3 separate regions of the Homo sapiens genome follow, and regions 1 and 3 are each reported to be linked to region 2. The links are microRNA targets in miRTarBase. Many come from high-throughput screens and were not tested one by one. Region 2 holds a microRNA gene; each other region holds the end of a gene's coding sequence.
The links. Region 2 holds the annotated microRNA hsa-miR-6733-5p (UGGGAAAGACAAACUCAGAGUU, at 3,193-3,214, opposite strand). A microRNA usually pairs through its seed, bases 2 to 8, with sites in the 3' UTR of a target mRNA and lowers its output. Matches are read on the target gene's strand: a 7mer-m8 pairs with bases 2 to 8, a 7mer-A1 pairs with bases 2 to 7 and ends in A, and an 8mer does both.

Region 1: the mRNA of TBC1D2B is a reported target of hsa-miR-6733-5p. Seed matches in the 3' UTR shown: 7mer-A1 at 1,361-1,367.
Region 3: the mRNA of E2F3 is a reported target of hsa-miR-6733-5p. Seed matches in the 3' UTR shown: 7mer-m8 at 5,710-5,716 and 7mer-A1 at 5,116-5,122.

Annotation. Positions count from the first base shown.
Region 1 is chr15:77,991,717-77,999,377 of GRCh38, reverse strand. It overlaps TBC1D2B (TBC1 domain family member 2B), which reads left to right. Exons shown (of 13, transcript NM_144572.2): 13 at 1,023-4,393. The coding sequence ends at 1,218. It overlaps LOC91450 (a long non-coding RNA gene), which reads left to right and starts at 5,153. Exons shown (of 1, transcript NR_026998.1): 1 at 5,153-6,145. It also overlaps the pseudogene ADAMTS7P3.
Region 2 is chr1:43,168,494-43,176,830 of GRCh38, forward strand. MIR6733 (microRNA 6733) reads right to left here and starts at 3,219; the gene lies at 3,159-3,219. It overlaps EBNA1BP2 (EBNA1 binding protein 2), which reads right to left and starts at 3,797. Exons shown (of 9, transcript NM_006824.3): 1 at 3,560-3,797; 2 at 3,393-3,476; 3 at 2,986-3,158; 4 at 2,263-2,386; 5 at 446-535. The coding sequence starts at 3,625. CFAP57 (cilia and flagella associated protein 57) reads left to right here and starts at 3,837. Exons shown (of 23, transcript NM_001378189.1): 1 at 3,837-3,960; 2 at 4,242-4,417. The coding sequence starts at 4,261. RefSeq lists enhancers at 2,872-3,508, 3,334-3,563, 3,509-4,144, 3,694-3,823, 3,904-3,953 and a silencer at 4,064-4,263.
Region 3 is chr6:20,489,983-20,497,643 of GRCh38, reverse strand. E2F3 (E2F transcription factor 3) reads right to left here. Exons shown (of 7, transcript NM_001949.5): 7 at 3,930-7,476. The coding sequence ends at 7,214. Among named protein-coding and RNA genes, the nearest start is that of CDKAL1, 41 kb to the left of the region's middle.

The sequences.
Region 1 (7,661 bases), not on the chromosome of region 2:
TTTTGAAACATAAAAGGTTGCACCCTCGTGTGTGCCTTGTGTTAAAAGGAGCCCACGCAGCCGACGGCAGCAGGAGCAAATGGCCTGCTCTGATGGGGACAGGCAGGAAGTCCTTCGGGGCATTTCTGTTTCATCACAGCTTTTCCTGGGGCTGGTGAGTCTGTTGGGCCTTTGGTTGACAGGGAAGCGCATGAGCCCATGTTGGTGGATACAAAGCATTTGGGGCCTGGCAGAATCCAGAGAGGGGAAGAAGGTGGCCCTAGGAACTGGCCTATTTTGTGATCCCCAGAGACCAGTGTGGCTGACCCATTAGTGCTACAAATCCATAGCCAGGCCTCAGGACAGCTTTTGGTCTTGTTTTTATTAAGCCACTGACCAGTGGTTAGGAGCAAGTGGATCATAACCTTAACATTTTTATTGAAAATTGGAGCCTTGACCTGGGGATGTGAAACCCACAAGCTGCACATTTCTCTGTAGACTGCATCTGGACACTTGTCACATTGCCAACTGGGTCTGACAGTCATCGCCAGGACTGCCTGGGCCTGTGTTCATTCCCAGTCAATGAGTCCTGGGACACAGACGTCCCGGACTCGTGCCCGGTGCCAGGCCTCATGCCCGCCCAAGGATGAAGACATACCTGCCATCACCATGCAAGTGCCGGGAGCTCTTCTCAGGGCTTATGTGTGGGAACACGAGTAATCCCACACCCTAGGAGGTGGCACTACTCTTACCCCAGTGTGCAGATGAAGATCAGAGGCCAGAAAAGGGGGGTGACTTCAGTCACACAGCAAGCATGTGGCAGAGCTGGAGTCCAGGTCGTCATTCTGAGCCTGCCCCTGGCTGGGCCATTGTGCTTTGTCACCTCTCTACAGAAGGTGGGCCTCATCCCCTACATCAGGCCCCAAGCCTGGCCAGCGCTCTTCCCACCCTGCCCCAGGCCACCTGCTATGCCTGTGAGGGCTGTGTGTGAGCACTCTCTGGAGCGCCGCTGATTCTCTTGTCTCTCCCCTGCGTCCTGCCAGGAAGCTGATCAGTATCTCCTTTGGGGACCTGAACCCTTTCCCCCTACGCCAGATCCGGAACCGACGCGCCTACCACTTGGAGAAAGTCCGGCTGGAGCTGACCGAGCTGGAGGCCATCCGTGAGGACTTCCTGCGTGAGCGGGACACCAGCCCTGACAAGGGTGAGCTGGTCAGTGACGAGGAGGAGGATACCTGAGTGGGCTCGGGATGCTGCTCTTCCTTCCTTCACAACCAAAGTGTGCCCAAAGGGTGAAAGTGCACTTAAAAGCCAGAATGTAACGTGTGTGTCCTCTGGGGATCTGCTGGGCAGATGTCCCAAGCCAGGCTGCCCTTCCTCATTTCCCACTGTGCGGGGGGCAGGGGTGGGAGGTCTAATCTGTTTACAACCATTTCCGTGCCATGCTTTTGGTTACACGTATCTCAGTCACGCTTTCTGCCTGGTTGGTGGATCCTCAGGCTTACCAGTGGCTATTTGCAAGAGCCTGTTTCCAGCCTCCGTCAGCCTGTCGGTGCTCTGACCCTCTGAAACCTTGCTTTGCTGGGCATCTCCCCATATTCTCTCTCCTGTACATAGTGGGCAGTGGTGTGTGGTTTTGAATGGCAGTGCTATAAAGGATGCCAGCTGTGCTTTAGGCACCTGTAGGCCAGAGGGTTGCTGCCTCAGGCATAAGGTTGGTATGAAAAGGGGCTGCCTTAGAAAAGCAGGCACATCCCTTGTTCAGAAATGGCCACTGTAGGAAAGCCTGTGAACCTCCCACCAGTGGCTTTAAGCTGCCAGCCATGCCCCATTTCTAGAATAGCCTTTGCTCTTCCACACGCAACCCTTCCATCAGTGTCTTCCAGCCTGCATGGGGAGGGCCTGGCTGCCCAGACACCCACCCTCACTTCTCATGGCCAGCCTGTGTTTGCAGATCACTGGGCTGCTCTGTCCCCAGCTTGCCCCGTGCCAGGCATGGCTCTGTGAGATTCTGTGGAATGCCCTTCTTGACTTGTGGAAATCATTCACCAAGTACGATGGGATGGGATTCCAAGTAAACAGTGGACCGTCATATTGCAAAGCAGGCCCACGCCTGGGCTGGCCTTGGTTGAGGGGATGGAGGAATGTTTTCGGGGGTGCTTTGCAGGGCAGTGGTGCAGCCGCAGCGTGAACGCTCTTGGACAGCTGAAAACCATGGCCTCCTTGGGGATGGCCAGTGCTCCTGGTGTCTCCACCTGCCTGGGTTGTGCAGGAGGCCGGCTGCCAGTGCCTGGGGCTGGGAAACTTTTTTGCTTGGGGCAGGCTTGGGTGAGCTCTCCCAGATGTGTGCCCACCCCACCACTGCCTGGAACATCCTTGTTCTCTGCCAGGATGCAGGGGCACTGTTGCCTCTGACACAGCAGTTTCTGGGAACTCAGAGGACTGCCTTTCTGAAGGCTGGGGAGAGGCTTTGAGCAAGGAGCTTGTTTTTGCTTAATCGCTCTAGACCATCCCTGATGCGTAGATGTGAGAGGATGTTTTCTGGCACAGTGTTATGAAAATACAAGATAAATGATCTCAGTGGAATGTTTCATATTACCCGAAAAAAACTGGAAATCATCCTTTGTTGTGAACACACTGAGACTAAGAATTGAAGCAATGCAGTTTTAAGAAGTATTTTTCCTATTTTTTGCTGTCAACTTTTTGGCAATGCCACGGCAAAGTTGGTGTTTCAGCACATGCTAGAGTGAGCTCCGGCTTCGTGTCTTTAACCAACTCCACTAATGTTTCACTGGGTAGACGGAGCTGGCCTCTATATTTAGCCAGAAGCCTTTGCCTCTTTTCAGGCATCAAAAATGGGTTTTGTCATTGTCTTTGTCTTTGAGAGCAGCAGTTTGAGGTCTGACTCCTTCAGTTGTCCTGTGAGCTGGGCGTTGCAGTCTGCTCGAATCAAGTGTTGGAACCCCCCCCACCCCTCAGCCCATCGTGAAACGACAGCTGTCAGCCTGGGGGGCGGCTGCTGAGGAGGTGCAGCAGGAATGGGGCTGGGCCCTGAGGTTTTACTTTCCGAGCCAATGGCCCCTGGAACATGCCAGCACACACTGCCATGTCCTGGGGCTAAGAGCTGCCTTTAGGGACAGGCTCGTGTTGTCCAGTTTGCCCTGAGAGATGCACCTGACCAGGGGCCCGTCGTGGCTGCAACCCACGGTGGTATGTTAGTGTTTCCAGGCAGTTGTCAGCAGCTGCCGGGCAGTGTGTGTGTGCGACAGCAGGAGAGTTCCTGGAGGAAAGGGACTGGGGACACTTTCTCAGAGGTTCTCCTGCCTGGAATCAAGTGATGCGTGTCCAGAAGGCAAGAGAGGGCGGCTCCGCCTGGTTAAAGTTTGGGAACGGGACGGAGCCAACTCCTCCTTCCAGGACTGTGGGCCCCACTCTTTTGCGCTAACACTTCCCCTCCCTCGGGTCACTGAGGAAAGAGCTGCTCTGTCCCCTCCAGTGCCCTGAAGGTCCCTGGCCTCCACTGGCTGCCATGGCAGGGGGCCCTTCTGACAGGGGCTGCCCCAAGCTGCTGTTCCTCCTCTGAACCTTCACCCCAACACCCAGCCCGTGGCCCCTGCAAGGGGGACCCTGCCAGCTGGGAAACCCAAAGGCCTGTCCAAACGTGCGCACCAGGACCGAGGGGAGCTCCCTCCCAACACCTGCTAGGAATTGCCAACTTTTAAATGGATGGGGTTTTTTATGGGTTGAACCTCTGTTAATACTTTTGTACACTCTCACTACAGTTTATATTTTTATAGGCTATTTTCTCAAGGTGTTTCTAGATTCCACATATCTATTTTATATAACAAGTTATTATGTTATGTGTGTGACTCCCTTGTGTGTATCTGTGCCAGCCTCAGCCTCCGAGTTGCTTTTCCCTCTGGCCCTGACTCTCACTGACTCACCGATGTGATGTGCAGGCCCACTTCTTACCCCAGATAGCCTCGGGCGCTGCCTGTAGTCATGCTGACAGCTGTACAGTAGCCGCCAAGACTGCTGACAGCTGGAGACGGTTCTGGTTTCAACTACGGTATATTGATATCGGAAGTATTCTAGACAGATCCTCGGTTGGGTTTTCTAGCTACATGTTTGTATTGCACAGATCCCCACCTGCCATCCTATAGTGTTGTCTTCCTGTGTGTTCCGGGGCTTCTGGGCAGCTGGGCCTGCCCGGGGAAGTCCTTGCAGGTGGGAGGCCATACAGAGACCCACTGTGTGCCACTGAACGTCCCACTGCTGCTGGGCAACTGGAGGACTGCAGGGGGCGCCAGGTGACTCTCTCCTTTTATATCACAGCAGCTCCTGTGCTGACCTTCAAGTTACGTTTTGGAACTGTAATACTAAAGGAAGAAATAAACTACTAATTTGTATAATATTCTGCATTGAAATTCAGTTATAGTCACTGGTGATGGGGCTCACCCCAAGGGCTTGGAGGGTGGGGCAGGGCTTATTGGTGTTGCGGGGGGCGAGGAGGGGCTCTCCAACCTTCCAGCCTGGCGTTTCTGGGTGTCTCTGCCCTTGGCTCACCCTGGGGCGGGTGCATCAGGATGCCTTTGCCAGCAGGGGCAGCCTTGGGAGGCCCCAAGAACCATGGCCAAGCTGCAGGTGTGGGCTGGGGGCACCGAGGTGGGAAAGCCGGAAGCTGGAGACTCCCTGTGTCCGGATAACCCCCCGCCCAGCCACAAAGAACAGGCATGCCTCCTTCCGCCAGCTGTGCCATGCCCTGCCTGAGTCACAGGCTTGTTTGTCTCCTGCCTGGGCTGACAGCTCAGGCCCAGCTGCCACTGGGCACACCCGCAGTCATCAGTGGAAAACACCCAAGAATGATAAAGACCAAAGGGGTTCCCATAGGGGTGTTTCGGGGTGGCTCCAGCAAGGATTCCCAGACAGGGCAGGCCAAGGCCTGGCAGGCTTTTCTCTTCTGCGGACATGGATTCAGCGAGGCTGGGGGTTCCTGGAGTCACGCAGCAGAGCGGCGGCGGCAGAGCTGGGGCAGAGCTGGGACAGGGACTGGCTCCGTGTGTGGGTCAGGAGCAAGTCGACAGGCCCTGCTCCCCACCCCTTGGAAGGGAGTGCCACCAGGGGCCGTTCTGACTAAGGCCTGGGAAGCCATGACTCAGAGCTTGGGTCCCTAGAGTCTCTTTGGGCCAGCCGGGCTGCTGCAGACAGACAGGAAGCACGCCTGACGCTCCTCTACCCTCGGGCAGCACAGCGGGGCTGGGACTCACTCTAGCTTGCCCAGCAACTTGCTTTCCTGTGTGAACTCTGGCAGGCTGCCCTCTCTGTGCAAAGCTGCCACTGGGGCCTGCTCAGGGTGGCCTGGAACTTGGAGGTGGGCAGTCAGGGCCTAGGATGGGCCTGTGTCACCAGGGCATGTGCCCTTGGGCCAGTTACTTCCTCTCAGAGCCTTGGGCTCCTCCTCTGAGGATGGGGCTTGTTGGTGTGAAATGAGGTGAGCATGTTGAGTTGGGGAGCAGCAGGACACGCACCTGCAGGCAGCCGCCCTGGCCACGCTCCCTCCCTACCTTCCGAGTCCTGGGACAGACACAGTAGAGCACAGCGGGCCAGCCTGCTCTCTTCTCTGTCTACTTTTTGCAGAAGAGTCAACAGATACAACAGGCCCAGGGAGGTGCCCCTGGGGGCCCCAGTCCCCATCACTCCAAGGGGCAGTCCTGCAAGTGACAAGGTGGGCCCAATCCCTGTGGAACAGGTCTCTGAGGACCACAGAGTGGGGCCCCAGGGAAAGCTGGGAGCCGAGCTAGAGGCAGGCAGCAAGTAAGGGCCAAGCTGTGCCCCTGCCCGGAAGACCTTCCTGCCCCCAGAACCCGACCCTCCGCAGATAGCCCTCCCTGGGCAGCAGCCCCCCAGCTTCCAAGGCCCGTGCCTCACCAGACGCCATGCTCTCACGGACTTGTTTGCTGCTCTGTACCCTGCAGATCTGCCCCAGAGGAGCAGGTGAAAAGCCGCGCCTGCCGAGGTGCTGTGGCGGTGGAGTTTTGGGCAGAGGAGTGGGGGGAAGAGTTTCTCACTTTTAAGATTCTCCAAATCCAAGATGAAGTCATGCTGTGCTTTGGAATGGTAGATGCTCATTTATGTAAAATCATAATAAATGTTACACAAACTGTTAGAATAAAAAAATACTTTTTTTGAGGGGGGAGGAGGTCCCCAGCCTGCCGCTGGATAGTGAGAGGGGGTTAGCACCATTAGGGCGTAGGGCGTAGGGCGTAGGGGGCAGGAGCTCCGCCACAGCCCATGGTGGGCACTGAGGTCTGTTGGTCGGTCTGTGCATCCTGGCACGGTCAGTGGCAGGCAACCCGCTGATGGCCTCGGGAGCGGGCGCCGTGGCTGGGCGGAGAGCACGAGCGGCAGCAGTGGGTGCGGACAGTGGGCAGCTGGCAGCAGCCCACTAGGTGCAGCGTCTCGCAGAACCTGAAGGACAGGTGGTCCCGCTTATAGCCTGGAGTGGGGGGAGTGGGGGGAGTGGGGGGAGTGGGGGGGAGTGGGGGGGGAGTGGGGGGGAGTGGAGTGGGGGGGGAGTGGGGGGGAGTGGGGGGAGTGGGGGGGCGGGGGATTGGGGGGGGTGGGGGGGCGGGGGGGGCATCAGAACCTGGCTCCCCACCCCAACCACCTTAAGGAGGCTCCAGCAGCTCCCCACCAAGCAGAGTGCCCCGGTTTCAAGGTCACACGTCTCCAGCTGTTGCTATTTCTGTCCCACCTGCTCATGGCCAACCCCAGGATTCAAGAACGGGCGCTGCTGGGCTGAAGTTTCTGGAGGAAAGGTCTTGAGACCCCACCCTGACCCCCTCACATGCCCATAAAAGAGCCTGCCCAGGGTGACACCCTGCCACCCCATCTCCATACTTGCTCACCCCTGGTATTCCCCGACAGATCCTGGCACAGAACTGAGGTCCCAGGGGCCTCCTGCCAGCCTGCAGCAACCTCTGCCGTCCACTCCCGCCACCTCCCCCTGCTCCAGTGCACCTATCCTGCCAGGCCTCTGTGACCACCTCCAGCCACGGGGGCTGTACACAGCCTCGGGTTCTGAGTCACAGGGTCCCATCTCCCAGGCCAGCCTCCCACTTCTCAGGTGGGCCACAAAGCCTAGAGTGAGTGGGCCTTACAGGCCATCAGTGGAAACCAGGGACTGAGCCCAGGCCCAGTGGGGAGGGAGGCCAGCTGCAGGCTGTGCTTGTCAGGGCTGAGGCTTGGCTGGGCCCTCCTGCCCCATGGTTATCAGAGCTATTTTGGGATGTGGCTTGTTTCCAGCCTCCTAGCCTTGCTCCTGCTGCTGCCGCTGCTGCTAACAAACCCCAGGCCCTGCTTACTCCAGCAAGAGGAGCAGGAGGACAGCAGCCAGCCCTGGGCCTGGGACATCCCCCAGGCCCGGCAGAGGGCACGAGGCAGCAGGCAGGCTCCTCCACCCCAGCTCCAGGCAGAGCTCCAAAGTGCACATCTGCAGGCCTGCATCCTGGTCGCCCGGGGTGACCTCAGACAAGCTGCTTCACCTCTTGGGCCTCGGTTCTCTCCTCTGTCAACCCCACCTCCACAGCAAACGGATATGGCCATGCTGTGTCACTGCAGTGAGCACACACACACGCGTTTCCCAGCTTTCCACATGTCCCACCAACTGTCCCACAGACCAG
Region 2 (8,337 bases):
TCTTCAGGTACGTGATTATCACATAGATCAGTGAATCCCAAACCAGGATGCATTTCAGAATCACCTGGAAAGCTTTTGGGGAAGAGGGGAAAACAGGCACAGATTCCTGGGGATTCTGAAGTCTAGAATTCTGTTTTGAAAAATTTCCCCTGGTGATTTTGCTATAAGGTCAGGTTTGGAAACCACTCATCTGGACCCAGTGTACAGATGTGAAAACTAACGCCCAGAGAGGTGATTGGCTCACCTGCAGTCACCATACTACTCCTGGGGAACCACTCATGTCCAGGCAAGATTGTGCTCATGAATACCAGCACATACACTGAGAGACGGTAAATACATGATCAACACACAGTTCCGTTCAGTTCAGGGGACCAAGTCAGACCACGGCAATCTCATCTAACACACACTCCGCCTCTTCCTGTTCCCTGCACACTTTTCTTCTCACCTTCTTCCCGTATTTCCTAAGTGCTCGCAGTTGCTTAGCTTTTTCAGACCTCTCCATGGCAGCCTGTTTAGTCTGCAGCTTCTGTCGAATCTACAACACAAAATGCTGTCAGTTCATGTCATTTGAATCTGGAATGACCACTACTTAGGATTCGCTAGAGCAGGGAACAGATATTCCCTGTTCTTTAAACTGCGGAACTTATAAATCATCAGTTCCAACCCCTGAGGACAATGGGGCCCACAGGCTGAGCACTTTACCAAAAGTGCCAGAGTGAAGCCAGAGATTGAAAGTCACCTTCCCGCTCCCAGTGTGCTGTCTGTTTCATTATACAAACTGCCTATTTGTAGCCCAGGAAAGAAGACAAACTTCTCCCCATTTCTACTGTCAGTAGACTGAGGCTGGAAACCAGTATGCGGCCTCAGTGTCCTTTTCTAGTATACCACATACACAATAAAAACCCAGGCAGATACCAGGTGCCTAGCCTTTTCAGTCAAACATACACATTTTAGTTAAAGGATGAGAAGTTGTCAGTGAGAATTTGTACAGAGTTCACAGTAAGAAGGTGAACTACTACCACGACAAAAGCTCCCTAAAATCCAGCTTGAGACCCCAGGGTACTATTTAAATATACTTATCCCTCAGTATCCATAGAGGATTAGTTCTAGGACCCACTACAGATATCAAAATCCACAGATGCTCAAGTCCTTTATATAAAAATGGTGCAGCATTTGCATATAACCTACACTCGCCTCCAGTATCCTTTAAAGTCAGAGGACCTCAACTCCCAGGCCACAGACCGCTACGAACCCACTATGAATCTGTGGCCTGTTAGGAACCAGGCCGCACAGCAGAAAGTGAGTGACAGGCAAGCAAGCATTACCACCTGAGCTCCACCTCCTGTCAGATTGGTGGTGGCGTTAAATTCTCATAGGAGTGCGAACTCTACTGTGAACTATGCATGGAACTATGCATGCAAAGGATCTAGGTTGCCTGCTCCTTATGAGAATCTAATGCCTGATGATCTGAGATGGAACGGTTTCATCCCAAAACTATCCCCTCCCCAAGTTCATGAAAAAATTGTCATCCACGAAACTAGTCTCTAGTGCCAGACCGCTTCTTTAAATAGTCTCTAGATTACTTATAATACCGAATACAATGCTATGCATCACCTCATTCTCATGGATTCAATGTAGTTCTCGGCACACGGAAAATTCAGTTTTCCTTTTGCAATATTTTCAAATTTTTTTCCCCAATATTTTTGATCCAAGGTTGGTTGAATCCACAGATGCTGAACCCATGGCTATGGAGGGCTGAATGTATGTTGGATTACATGCTGGCAATCCCTTCTTCCAAAGTTAAATGAGGTCCAAGTTCTACCCAACTCTAAATTGTACTATATCTGAACCATCTAAGAATCCCTCATTTTACAGAGGAGAAAACTGAGGCCCAGAGAAAAGTAATTGTCTACAAGTTCTAGCACTGACAGTGGCAAGGGCACAAGAATGCTGTCCTCTCTGCACACCATGTCATGACCATGCCAGCTAGGAAATGCACTGGGCCATCTTCACCTCGGGGACCACACTTCACACAGCACTGTTCCTCTCCTTAATTGCTGATTTTAGAAAAAATGTCATTTTTATATGCATCTAATTGGTGGTAACTGGCATGACTCTGAAGTAGCCAATCTATGGAAGAGGTAATAATTGTCCTCTGACAACTGGCTCCCCGTTATTGGGCTCATAGCTATCTTTCTAAGCCAGCTGAATATGCTTAAGTACAAAGTTTTGACTTTCCAGAGGAAAACTTCTATTTCTTACCTTCTGCATCTGCAGATCAGATTTGGCCATTTCCGCAAAATAATCAGTGGGTCGCTTCGTAGGGACTTTGAGCTGATGGAGGCGGGGTAAGACTGCAAGCACTGCGGCCTGGGCTTGGCGATAGCTGAGAATCGTAGGACAAAATGTGTAATGAGGTGAAGGAGGAGGCCTTACGTTCCTTTTCACCGCCAATCATGAGTTATCCAAGCTCAGAAGGACTCTCAAAATCTGACCTCCATTAGCAAGAACAAACAAACAAAAACTGTCTCACTGATTTAGTATCTAAAAGAAATGTAGCCGTATACTAGTTTTTAAAAAGGGGAGGGGTGTTGCTAAAAATAGTTTAAGAGAATGACTACTCTAAAGGTACCCATTAACACAAACGAATGTCGATTATGGATTCTTATGTAATTACTAAAGCAATTCCACACAAGAACATCCCATAAGCAATGTTTGTTTGTTTGTTTTCCTAATAACTGAAGCATGCACAAAAAGTTTTAACATGAATATTTCAAATTAGCCCATAAAGTGGATTTTGGATCGTGACCGTGGACCAAAGAGCTCTTCTCTCAAACAGGAAGAATCTCCTAGCTATTCTTAGTCAAAAGAAGCCGCTCTCTCTACTCCTAGGCTTATTCTGAGTGCAGACTTACTAATTTCCCCTCTTTCCCACTCTCCTGCACAAGGATCCTCAACTTCTCCAACATTTGAAAACAAACATACAAACTCATCTCTCGCTGGAAGTCGTCTTCTGGATCAACAGCTTTCTGGTCCTTGTTCTGAGGTGCTGGCGCCTCAGATCCACCGATCTCCGGTACCGGACCCAGTGTCACATCGAGCCTTTCAACCCATTCCAGATCCCGCTTGAATTCTGCCAAACATTGCTTCAGGCCATTCTAGGAAATCCAGACACTGAGCTCACAAGAAGGGAACTCTGAGTTTGTCTTTCCCAAGCACAGGCTGTTAGGCGAAGGGACAAAGTGCTAATCCCCAATACCCAGACAGGTAATTGACCCTCTTGGCGAGGCGCAGGGTGCATCTTTCCTGGGACAAGAATCGGTCTCCCAAGCCCAACAGCGCCTGAAGCGCATCCCATGTCCGAGTACCCCCGACCCTGTGCCCACGCTCACCACGTCGTTCACGGCCTTCTTCGGCCCCTCTAGCACGACATTGAGGCCTGGCTTCAGAAGCCCTCGGGAAAACGCATCCTGCAACTGCAGGACACAATCACGGTCACTCCCAGGGGTGTAAGGCCCCCTCTCCCACGCCCAGCCCCACGAGCTCGGCTGACACCTACCTCTCTGTCTGTGACAAGGGATTCATCGGATTCCGACTCCGAATCCGAGAGCGGGGGAGTGTCCATCTCGCCGCACGCACGTCCCACACCTACAGGAAGAAACGGGGTATCCCGAGACCCAAGCGGCTAGCAGAGGGCGGCCCTGGCCGCTGCTGCCTGCCTTCAGCCCCCTACTCCCACGCCGTGGCTCCACGTGCCACCGAATCGCTCCAGCGCCAGCAACTCACAGCTACTGCTCAACTTTTGATTGGGACTTCCGCTTCCGGCGGCAAACCATACTTCCGGTTTGTCGTTGCTATAGGAACCGCTACGGCGTTTGAAAGTGTCCGGGTTGCTTAGGATCCCTACAGGTAGCGCCTCTGGATACATGCGTGGTCTGCTGACCCAGAGAGAAACGAAAGGTGGGAGGGGGTACCTGGGGGTCGCCAGAAGGAGCTGGTAGCAGTGAGGGTACAAAGGAAAAGGCAGAAAAAGGAGCCGCGGGGGTGGGGTGGCGCGGAGGAGGACCCCGGGGGAGGGGAAAGGGGAGGGACAAGGGGAGGGGAAAGGGGAGGGACAAGGGGAGGAGAAAGGGGAGAGACAAGGGGAGGAGCAAAGGGCGGGGAGGGCGAGTCCGGGCCGGGGGCGGGGTCGGAGCGGGGCGGTGCTCTCCACTCTGAAGCGCTGCCTTGGTCTTCAGCAGAACTGTTTGGCGGGAGATCATGTCAGCCGTGGTAGCTCAGACGCTGCATGTTTTTGGTCTTCGATCCCACGTGGCCAACAATATCTTCTACTTCGATGAACAGATCATTATATTTCCTTCAGGAAATCACTGTGTGAAGTACAATGTGGATCAGAAATGGCAAAAATTCATTCCAGGTAAAACTTTTTCCATCCTGACATATACAGGAATGGTATGTGCCACATATAACCCCATAATCCCAGCATGATGATTGGAAAGAAAGATTTTGGCCAATTTGAATATATATGCAGTATTATAAATGTAGAGGAAATAAATGGCGACTTGTATTATGAAACTAGATTAATCAGTCACGCATATGTAGTTAAAATCACATATAAAATGTTAATTTAAAAGTACTTTTTTCACTGTAATTTCATGAAAATATGTTAAGAACCCCTCTTTTGGTGTCTTCAATATCACTGCCTTTGTCATCACCAGAGCCACTTTTTGAGTTGTCTAACAGTTTTCCTGAGCACACCACCTTCATTATATCACCGTTTGAATCCAAGTATGATGAAGACACTGTAAACTTTATCCCAAGTCGCAAATAACCATTTGTATAGCATTACAGCCCTTATTTTTGTTCACAGTGGTCCTGTTAATGATATTCATTATTTCAACAACCGAATCCATTTTCCCATTCTTTGTTGCATTGACACCTTTTATTGTGACATATACATACAAAAGAATGTACCCTACATATATGTCATATTTAAAGAATTACAATAGAATGTAGATCTGTGAACCCAGCCACCCAGCATAGGAAACAGAATATTACCAGTTCTAGTGCTTCTCCCTGTATTCTGTGTCTTGCTGCATCAGTTCAATGTCATGCTTTTGAGATTCACACATCTCGATACATATAGCCAAGTTCATTTTATTGCTATGTAGTGTTCCATCATATGAATATAATGTCTCAAATATATGTATTCACTCTAATATTGAGGGACATTTGGGAAATAACAATCATTTGCTATTACAAACTATACTACTATAAACATTCTTGCATGCATATACATTCATCTATTTGTGCAGATTCTCTAGGGCACACAGCCAGGACTAAAATTACTGAGCAATATGATAGTACCAATTTACACTCCCACTAGAAGTGCATAAGAGTTCTTATTCCTCAGCAACCCTGCCAACCCTTGGTATTGTCCAACTTCGTAATTTTTTGCTAACCCAATGGTTGAGAAAAGGAATTGTGGTTTTCGTTTGCATTTTGCTATCATTAATGATGATGAGTATCTGTTTATGGGCTATTCCTATTTAGTCGTATGTTAAATGCCTTGTTCAAGTCTTTTACTTGTTTTTTACAGTTTGTTGTGCAGGATATTTTTGGGCAATTTTATTGATTTACATGCACAATTTATATATTCTGTATATCAATAATTTGTCAGATATATATATATGTCTTGCAAATAATTTCTTTCAGTTTGGGGCATTTTTCTCCCATCTTACAAGTATCTTTTGATGGACAAAAATTATTAGTTTTAATAAAGTCAAATTTATCAACCACATAATATTCTGTTGGAATAAGCTGTATTAAATACAGTTGACTTTAATTTATTGATGTTTATTTCCAGCATATTTGCTAAATTATTATTAATTCTAATGATTTGTCTATAGATTATGCAGAGACTTCTACATAGACTATCATGTTATCTACAAATAACGATGACTTTCTTCCTTTTTCTTGTGTTACCTGTGCTGGTAAGCACCTCCAGACAGTGTTGATTAGGGGCAATAAAAATGGACATCTGGCCAGGTGTGGTGGCTCATGCCTGTAATTCCAGCACTTTGGGAGGCCAAGGTGGGCAGATCACGAGGTCAAGAGATCAAGACCATCCTCGCCAACATAGTGAAACCCCGTCTCTACTAAAAATACAAAAATCAGCTGGGCGTGGTGGCACGTGCCTGTAGTCCCAGCTACTCGGGAGGCTGAAGCAGGAGAATTGCTTGAACCCGGGAGGCAGAGGTTGTGGTGAGCCAAGATCGCACCACTGCACTCCAGCCTGGGAAACCAAGCCAGACCCTGTCTCAAAAACAAAAATAAAAAAGATCATATGACTTTCCAATATAAATTAAATTATGGTTTTCTACAGACAACATTAATTTATATTTGCTCTCATACTTACCAAACTTTTTCCCACCATTACTCTTTACAAATCAGATATTCCAGCTGGGATCATTTTCCTTCTGCATTTACTGATAATGTATTAATAAATTCTCCCAGTTTTTGTCTGAAAATGACTTTATTTTATCCTCATTTCTGAAAGATAGTTTCAACAGGTGTGAAATTTTTATCAGCATATTATAGATCATATTCCATTGTGTTTTTTTGGCTTCTCTTTTGTTGCTGTGGTTAAGAAATTAGCTATCAGCATCGTCTTTCTGTAGATGATCTTTTTTTCTGGATGTTTAATATCTTCTCTGTCTATGGTGTGTGTGTGTATGTATCTATACACATACACCATATACATATATACGTATAAAATACACACCATATATACACACACCATATACTATATGTACATGTATATATACATAGTATATATACATACATATAGATACAGACACACACATCAGTATAGTTTTTATTTTCATTTTTTATCCTCCTAGGGATTATTTGAGATTCCTGGATCTAAGGACAGGTATCTTTTTTGTTCTGTTATCTCCTTCTGGAACTCCAAACCATCTCAACTCCATCCTTCCAGTTTTTTATTTTATTTTATTTTATTTATTTATTTTTTAAGAAACCAGGTCTCACTCTGTTGCCCAGGCTGGAGTGCACTGGCACAATCATAGCTCACAGCAGTCTCAAACTCCTGGGCTCAAGCCATCCTCCCCACCTTAACCTCCTGAATAGCTGGGAATACAGGCATGCACCACCTTGACCAGCTAATTGTTTTTATGGAGATGGGGTCTGGCTATGTTGCTGAGGCTGGTCTTGAACTCCTGAACTCAACTCATCCTCCCACCTCAGCCTCCCAAGTAGCTGGGATTACAGGTGCAAGCCACCACACCTGACGTTCATGTTTTTGGGTTTTTTTTTTTTTGAACTCTTATTTGGATTTTTTATACCTTACTCTCTCTGTGTTGCATTCTAGATAATTACTTTAGATGTATCTCGTAGTTCATTGCTTCTCTTTTCTGCTGCATCTAACTTAATGTTTAATGTATCCATTGAGATTTTACTTTCAGTTATTGTGCTCATATTCTTACACTTCTTACTGTATCACTTCTCTTCTGCTCCTAACTCCATCTTATATCACCAGGGGCCTTGTACACATGTGGGTGGATCCTTGCAGCCCATATGTTCAAATTCTACCCATATATTCTATAAGCAACCACCCTGTGCCCATCCTTCAGGCCCAGGTTGAGTAGAGACAGCCTGGGAAGAAACCCCCAATGTTGGTCTTGTCAGCAGGCTCAAGACTATCTGAGCAGGGAACTCCAGAGTCCTGGGTACCTGCAACGTGATCTAGAAGAGGCAGGACAAACTCCAGGCAGCCACTGTATCCCACTTAATGGTAAGGGGTACAGCCAGAGAAAGACTCCGGGATGCTCTAAAATTTGAGGCCCAAGGGAGGATCTCCACTGACCAAGTCTAAGGGTATTACCGGTGAAGGGAAAAATATAAAGGTCATGACATTGGGAGACCTGGCTTTGATCTGGCTCCCCATTTTATAGGCTCACAGAGCCTCAGTCTCCTCATCTGTAAGATGCAGATGATGCTCAGCTTGTTCAGCTCAGAGTCATGATGAGGCTCAACATATTCATTTGTTCACTCAACAAAAATGTATTAAGTACCCCCTGTGTTCCAGGCACAAAATAGACACGCACATATGCACATAAAATGCTGTCCTCACAGTGCTTCCATTCTAAGAGGGGAGAGTGACAAACAAAATAAAAAGAAGTACAGTCTACATGCTAGATAGTGATAGATGCTAATAAGAACAAACAAAGCATGGAAAGTGAAGCCGTTGGGGGAGTAAGAAGTTGTAGATAGGGAGGCTGGGGAGGGCTCACTGAGCAGTGATTTTTGAGTGAAGAC
Region 3 (7,661 bases), not on the chromosome of region 2:
GGGAATAGCTCCAAACCACCCTAGATCAGGACCTCTGTGGCTTTGTAGAGCTTTCCAGTGGCAAGGCTACATCTGCCTTCCATTTCCATTCCTGCCTCTAACCATCTGTCCTTCCAATTCTTCCAAAAATGGCTTCAGTCAGAAAAATAGCTCATTTGACATCCGGCCTTCCGGTTTGCTTCTCCTAGCTAAAACTCGTTTCTCCCTGAACACTAGACTGCAAACTTCCTCTTCCTGACAGGACCTAGGCCTTTTTAAATGTGGACTCCAGCGCCTAGAACAGTTCCTGGCATCCAGCAATCACTTTATATTCATTCAAAGGGTGACTGACCCTGTTTCCCTTAATGGTTACTGAATCACTGAATACAATTCACTTTTCTGTATTGTTTTATATTCTGTCTCGCAATATTACTACGACTGATCTGATTTCTTCTTCTCTCCCTCCCTTCAGTCCTCCCTCCCTCCTTCCCTCCCCTCCCTTCCTCCCTTCCTTGGGATCTCCCTACTGAAACTGATTTATAAATTTTCCCCAGAGTGAAACCCATTTCTAAAACAGTACTTTGGGTAAGGTTCTAAATTATAAAATATTCAAACATCCTAGTTCTGTATCAACTTTTTTTAATTTTTTTTTTTTGAGACAGATTCTTGTTCTGTCACCAGACTGGAGTGCAGTGGTGTGATCTCGGATCACTGCAACCTCCGCCTCCTGGGTTCAAGCGATTCTCCTGCCTCAGCCTCCTGAGTGGCTAGGACTACAGGCGCGCGCCACCACACCCAGCTAATTTTTGTATTTTTAGTGGAGACAGGGTTTCAGCATGTTGGCCAGGATGGTCTCGATCTCTTGACCTTGTGATTCGCCCGCCTCGGCCTCCCAAAGTGCTAGGATTACAGGCGTGAGCCACTGTGCCTGGCCTTTCTTTTTTTGGTTTTTGAGACAGAGTCTTGCTCTGTTGCCCAGGCTGGAGTGAAATGGCGCGATCTTGGCTCATTGCAACCTCCGCCTCCTGGGTTCAAGCAATCATCCTGCCTCAGTCTCCCAAGTGGCTGGCATTATAGGCGCCTGCCACCACACCCGGCTAATTTTATTTTTATTTTTTTATTTTTAGTAGAGACGGGGTTTCGCCATGTTTGCCAGGCTGGTCTCCTGACCTCAGGTGATCCACCTGCCTCGGCCTCCCATATGCTGGGATTAAAGATGCGAGCCACCACACCCAGCCTATATCAACTTTTATGAGGTTAATGCAAATTCATCTTGTCTACATTACCTGAGGTCAGCAGTTCGAGACCAGCCCAGCCAACATGGCAAAACCCCGTCTCTACTAAAAATACAAAATTAGCCAGATGCAATGGCGGGTGCCTGTGGTCCCAGCTACTCAGGAGGCTGAGGCAGGAGAATCACTTGAACCTGGGAGGAGGAGGTTGCAGTGAGCCGAGATCACGCCACTGCACTCCCATCTGGGCGACAGAGACTCCATCTCAAAAAAAAAAAAAAAAAAAAAGAAGTTAAACACAAAAAGCCACATGTTGCATGATTCAATTTATAGGAAACATAGAGAACAGGTGAATCCATAGGGGCAAAAAAGCAGAAAACAGGGACTGCAAGGTGTCGGGGATAGGGAGTAACTAATTTATGGACACAGGTTTCCTTTTGGAGTGATGAAAATGTCTTCTGGAACTAGACAGAAGTGATGGTTATACAGCACTGTGAATGTTATCAAATGTTACTAATGATAAATTTTGTTACGAGAATTATACCACATCAAATATATAGTACCTGACATACAAGCATTCTAAAAACTTTACATTTTTTTAATAGCAAAATGAGCAAAACTATCTCTCAAACAGGAAATCACCTAAGTATATTATTAAATACATTTTTAGGCCAGGCGTGATGGCTCACCCCTGTAATCCCAGCACTTTCGGAGGCCGAGGAGGGTGAATCACTTGAGGTCAGGAGCTCAAGACCAACTTGGCCAAGATAGTGAAACCCCGTCTCTACTAAAAATACAAAAATTAGCTGGGCATGGTGGCAGGCACCTGTAATCCCAGCTACTTGGGAGGCTGAGGCATGAGAATTGCCTGAACCTGGGAGGCAGAGGCTGCAGTGAGCCAAGATCACTCCACTCCACTCCAGCCTGGGCAGCAGAGTGAGACTCATCTCAAAAAAAAAAAAAAATTTTTTTTTTAAATCACTGGAATGGTATGCAGCCTTTGAAGAGCATGAACACGATCTACAAGTACTCACATGGAAAAATGTGACATAGCAATAAAAAGCTTCAGATCAGCATATATGGTATGACTTATGTTAAGTCATGTTAAAACACACATGCTTACTGTAATCCCAGTACTTTTGGGGGCTGATGGGGGAGGATTGCTTAAGGACAGGAGTTTGAGGCCAGCCTGGGCAACATTACAAGACCCCATCTCCACAAAAATAATAAAAAAAAAAATAGCCAGGCTTGGTGGTGCACGCCTACTATTCCCACCTACTCAGGAGACTGAGGCGGGAAGGACCACCAGAGCCCAGGAGTCTGAGGCTGCAGTGAGCCATGATGGTGCCACTGTACTCAAGCCTGGGCAACAGAGTGAGATCCTGTCTCTAAACAAAAACAAAAACAAAAAACAAAAAACAAAACAAAATAGGTCGGGCTTGGTGGCTCACCCCTATAATCCCACCACTTTGGGAGGCCAAGGCGGGTGGATCACCTGAGGTCCAGAGTTCGAGACCAGCCTGGCCAACATGGTGAAACTCCGTCTCTACTAAAAATACAAAATTAGCTGGGCGTGGTGGTGCATGCCTGTAATCCCAGCTACTCGGGAGGCTGAGGCAAGAGAATCACTTGAACCCAGGAGGCGGAGGTTGCAGTGAGCTGAGATTGCACCACTGCACTGCAGCCTGGGCGACAGAGCAAGGCTCTGTCTCATACAAATAAATAAATACAAACAAAATAAAATAAAATACACATGTTCATGCACAGATATGTGCCTAGAAAATGACTGGAAGGATAATACAAGAAAAATGCGAACAGTGGTTATCTCTGGCATGAATAGCATAGAGGGGCAGGTAACGTCCCCCCCTGCCCTTTTTTTTTAAACTTCATACCCTTTTATATTGATTTTGTGTGTGTACAATATATAGCACTTTGAGGTTTTTCAATGATAAGTTCAGAGTTAACAGTGTGACATGGCAGTCAAAAAATTCAAATCTGCTCCTAGATGGCATTACTAGAAATACACAATCTAGAACATGGGAGGTAATTACCAGATTTCAGAATTAAAATGTATTGGCTTTATAACCCTTACGAGGAGTCAAATTTGTCACTTTCTCAGTGTAACAATTACTCAGTGTCCGAGTGGTTTCTGCACATGGTCAAAGGGACAAGGTAAGTTCTACTTCACAGGGTGCAGAGCACACCGGAAGTGGTCACCAAATATTTGCTGAGTGTTCTGAGTCCCAAATACCGTCTAAGGCAAACGATGTTTTAAGCTTTTGTTTAGCCTTTCTCCTTAACTTGTTTAAGAATGTTTTAAAAAATTCAATTAATAGGCTGGGCGCGGTGGCTCATGCCTGTAATCCCAGCACTTTGGGAGGCCGAGGCAGGCGGATCACTTGAGGTCAGGAGTTCGAGACCAGCCTGGCCAACATGGTGAAACTCCGTCTCTACTCAAAATACAAAAATTAGCCAGTCGTGGTGGCGGGTGTCTGTAGTCCCAGCTACTCAGGAGGCTGAGGCAGGTGAATCACTTGATCCCGGGAGGTGGAGGTTGCAGTGAACCAAGATTGTGCCACTGCACTCCAGCCTGGGTGAGAGTGATTGACTCTGCCTCAAAAAACAAAACAAAAAAAAAAAAAAGAAAAAGAAAATGAAAAAAATTCAATTAATAGAGGAGCACAAGATAATATTAAAGAAAACCCATCCACAAGCCTGAACTCTTAAAAAAAATCATTTTATTGATCCTTTACCATACAAAATTTATTCAAATTACACCCATTTGAAGTGGTAAGATCACAGCTAGAGAACAGGTCACCCTGTAACAAATCTATTTACAAAATCCATCATAAAAGCTTTTTTTTGTTTTTTTTTACATTATATTACATATTTTCTTTTTTAAACTAGCATACAACACAAAGCTAAACTGATTAGTAGTTTGCCTACTCCCAATTTTGGGAGAAATACTTCCTTTTTACAAAATCACGTACCCCGTAGGAAAAGAAATTCCCACACCCTGACAATTGCCACCCGACTTACTCTGCAAGCCATCTTCCTTCATATCCCTCCTTCTCATACACACGAGTTGTCATGCACACACTGAATTCTTATTTTCTTTTTCCTGAAAGCTTAAGCTTTAAATACTGCAATTTTATTTACAGATCTACACGTACAACAAAAATGAAAACAAGAGCCACAACAAAGAACAGAAAAACAAAAACAAAATAACACTCTTAAAAAATTACAAAGCAGCTAGAAAGTATTCTGGCAGTGTTTACAAATTAATTGCTATTTTTGTACAAAATTGCTAAATAATGAAAATGTGAGTAGACTACATATCAACTTAAATAAAACGATTGCTATGCACAACTCTGTACATATAAACACACTCCTAACACTGTTTGACAGCTCATGTGTTGCCCTTTATACATTTTATTTTCTAAGGCTCACGCAGTCATAATTTGCACACTTGTAACTTTTAGCCATTTCGTGTGTGAGCTTTAATAGCAGCAACTCAATGGTACCAGGAAACCTGCATACTTAGTACTTAAAGTAACGCAAATACTGTAGTACTAACCCACTTTGTGTGCCGGATACTAAGTCAAAAAGAAAATTACTTAATGCAAACAAAATACAGTATGGACATCTAATTAATGTACACCAGTTAAACCCAGTAACTGGAAAAAAATCTTATGCATGAAGGAACTTTTAAGACTTATTAGTATTCCTTTCATTTTAAAAACAATAAATACGGCATTACATTATGAAAAAATTCAACAAAACACACAACAATCTAGCCAGGTGAGCTCAGTCTTTAGACTTTGGAAAAAATCAGCTTTGTGCAGCTGGCAAAGAGAATTACACAAAGCTGGAAGCAGAGGCAGCTAACCAGATGAGATAAATATGGGAAATGGGGAAAAGCTTGGCATAAATGGTTTCCCATACAGGAAAAAACCCCACAGTGCATTTCCAGTAGGCACTTAACACAAAGCTCCCTCTCCCTCCCCCACCCCAATGCTTCATCTAGGACCACACCGACATTTTGTACCAAGTCCAGTGTGTGTGAGGGGAGGAGGCCAGGGATGGAGGCTGAAGAAGAAAAAAAGGAAGATAGTCTGCACCTTTGTTTTTCTTCCCAAACATACACCCACGCATACCCACACAAAGAGTTTAAAGTGCTGGTGTCATCTGTCTTGACCCCACCACCACTTTGCATATTGTGGAAATCTACCTGGAGTAAACTGGCTGGGGCTCTTGTGGTTTTTTGTGTGTTTTTTTTTTTTCCTAAGGGATATTTTCAATTCAATTAAACATATGAGTTGAGTGCCTACTATGTGCCTACCATTGGGTCAGGCACATAGCATTTCAATTTAACTGTTCGTTTCGAGGTTTGTTCTTTATCTGACTCCCTCATTCCCGCAGTCCTTAGCATCCAAGGAATGGACCGGAGATACTACGCCATATTCCCAGTGGGAGATGGCCGCTGCCACCTGCCCGAGGGAAAGCCATTCTTGGACATAACTGGTAGGATTTGCAGCTGACACAAAGCCTCCAACTTGGGACACCATTCCTGAAGAGTAAAGCGGGAGACACCCTGGCATTGTTTTGCTTCATTTTTTACGTCCCCGACTTCCCTTGGTCCAACTTATTCCTTCATAGAGGAAGGGGAACGGGGTCTGGCCAGAACTATTCCAGCCCCCGACACAGGGCTGCTCCCTGTTCCTGCCAGCTTAAGGAAATGCCACTCACACAATGGGGATGTCTTTCTCCCTAGAGGTCTCTCCATCTGACCCCATCCTGAGAAGTGGTCTCCCTGAGTGCGGTGTAAGAGAGCCCTTTCCCCTGTCACAGGGGCCCGGGAAGCCCAAGGATGGAGGGACCCATGCCTGCTGCTCCTTGGGGCTGTTACATCATCTGACCTGGTTCTCCTTTCCAATGGGCCACCCATGTCAGCAAGCCCCAGGACTGACTCGCTCCAAGCTCCCCCTCCTGGGAATGGAAGCACGATGGGACAAAGCTCCTTGCAGAGGCTGATAAACCTTAGATCACACAGGTTTAGATGCTCTGATCAGTAGAGGTTCTCTCCCTCTGCTTAAGTAATATGAATTTGCAAAAACCGCTTCAAAGTAAACAATTAAATTGAAATGGTGATGGGTGCCACAGGAATGCTTAAATGGCAGCTAAAAAAATTAAAAGTCTAGAACAATCCACAAAGAACTAAGTAGGCATTTGCTACAAATCAACTGGAAACTCACAAACACATTGGGGACGGGGGAATGGGAGTGGTTCATGGAGACAGGAAAATCCACAACAGCTTAGAGTGGCAGAACTCTACTAGTCTTCTGTATCTGCAACAAGTATATTTGAAAACAGGTTCTTCATCCAGAAGGCTGTGGAGGTTTTCTTGACCTCCTACTGGGACACACAGTTCATAGCTTAAACTGAATTATGACAGTAATTTAAATATTCCTAAGAAGAGCTGAAGAAATCCATTTCATACTTTTGCATGACTTCAAGTTTGCATTTGCTGCAGTTCCATTCCATATTAGCAGACCTCAAAGACATGCATTCTGCGGAGAAGGCACGGCTTGAAATGCTATTAAGGAAGATTGCTGTTTCCCAGCAGGCCAGGTGGCCAGACCCCATTCTACAGCCCATCCGTCAGGCACAGCAAGCCAATCCGGGGAGGAAGGAGGAAGGACAATTCGGGGTGAGAGACACCTGATTGCACATTTTCTCACTTGCTGACTTAGCCAGGAGATCTTGGAGCCTGGAGCAAAGCAGGGCTTTCCCAAGGGAGCCTGCAACTGTGCGTTTAGACAATTTGTTTATTAATTTTTTAAAAAATTCATTAAAATGTCAGCTTTCTTCTGAAGTTTGTAGTTTACTTCATGATACTCTCTTGGAGGAAGAAGGTAGGAAGGGACAACACTGCATGACAGATGTTCTGGTTCCATGATAAAAAAATATCGGTTTTTAAGGAGAGTTCACACGAAGCATAATCAACTACACATGAAGTCTTCCACCAGTGGGAGCTTTTCCAAATCGTAAGCATCGAAGAGATCGCTGATGCCTTCCTCCTCCCCGAGGCTCAGGAGATAGTCCTCTTGCAGCAGGGGAGGCAGTAAGTTCACAAACGGTCCTTCTAGGTTGGAAGGAATTTGGTCCTCAGTCTGCTGTAAGAGGTTGGCTGGGGAGGCCAGAGGAGAAAGGTTTCCCATAGAAACTGAGCAATCGCTATGTCCTGAGTTGGTTGAAGCCAAGTCTGAAAAGAAAACATTGATGGAAACAAAAAATAAGTTAGAAAAATCAAATGAATTTTTCTGGAAGAATGTATATGTTGCTGTTAGAAAAAAGCATGTACCTTCCGCAAATAATGACAATGAGACGACTTTATGATGCAGATCACCTTTTATGCTAACAGGTACAAAAAAGTTCCTTGCCACCCCC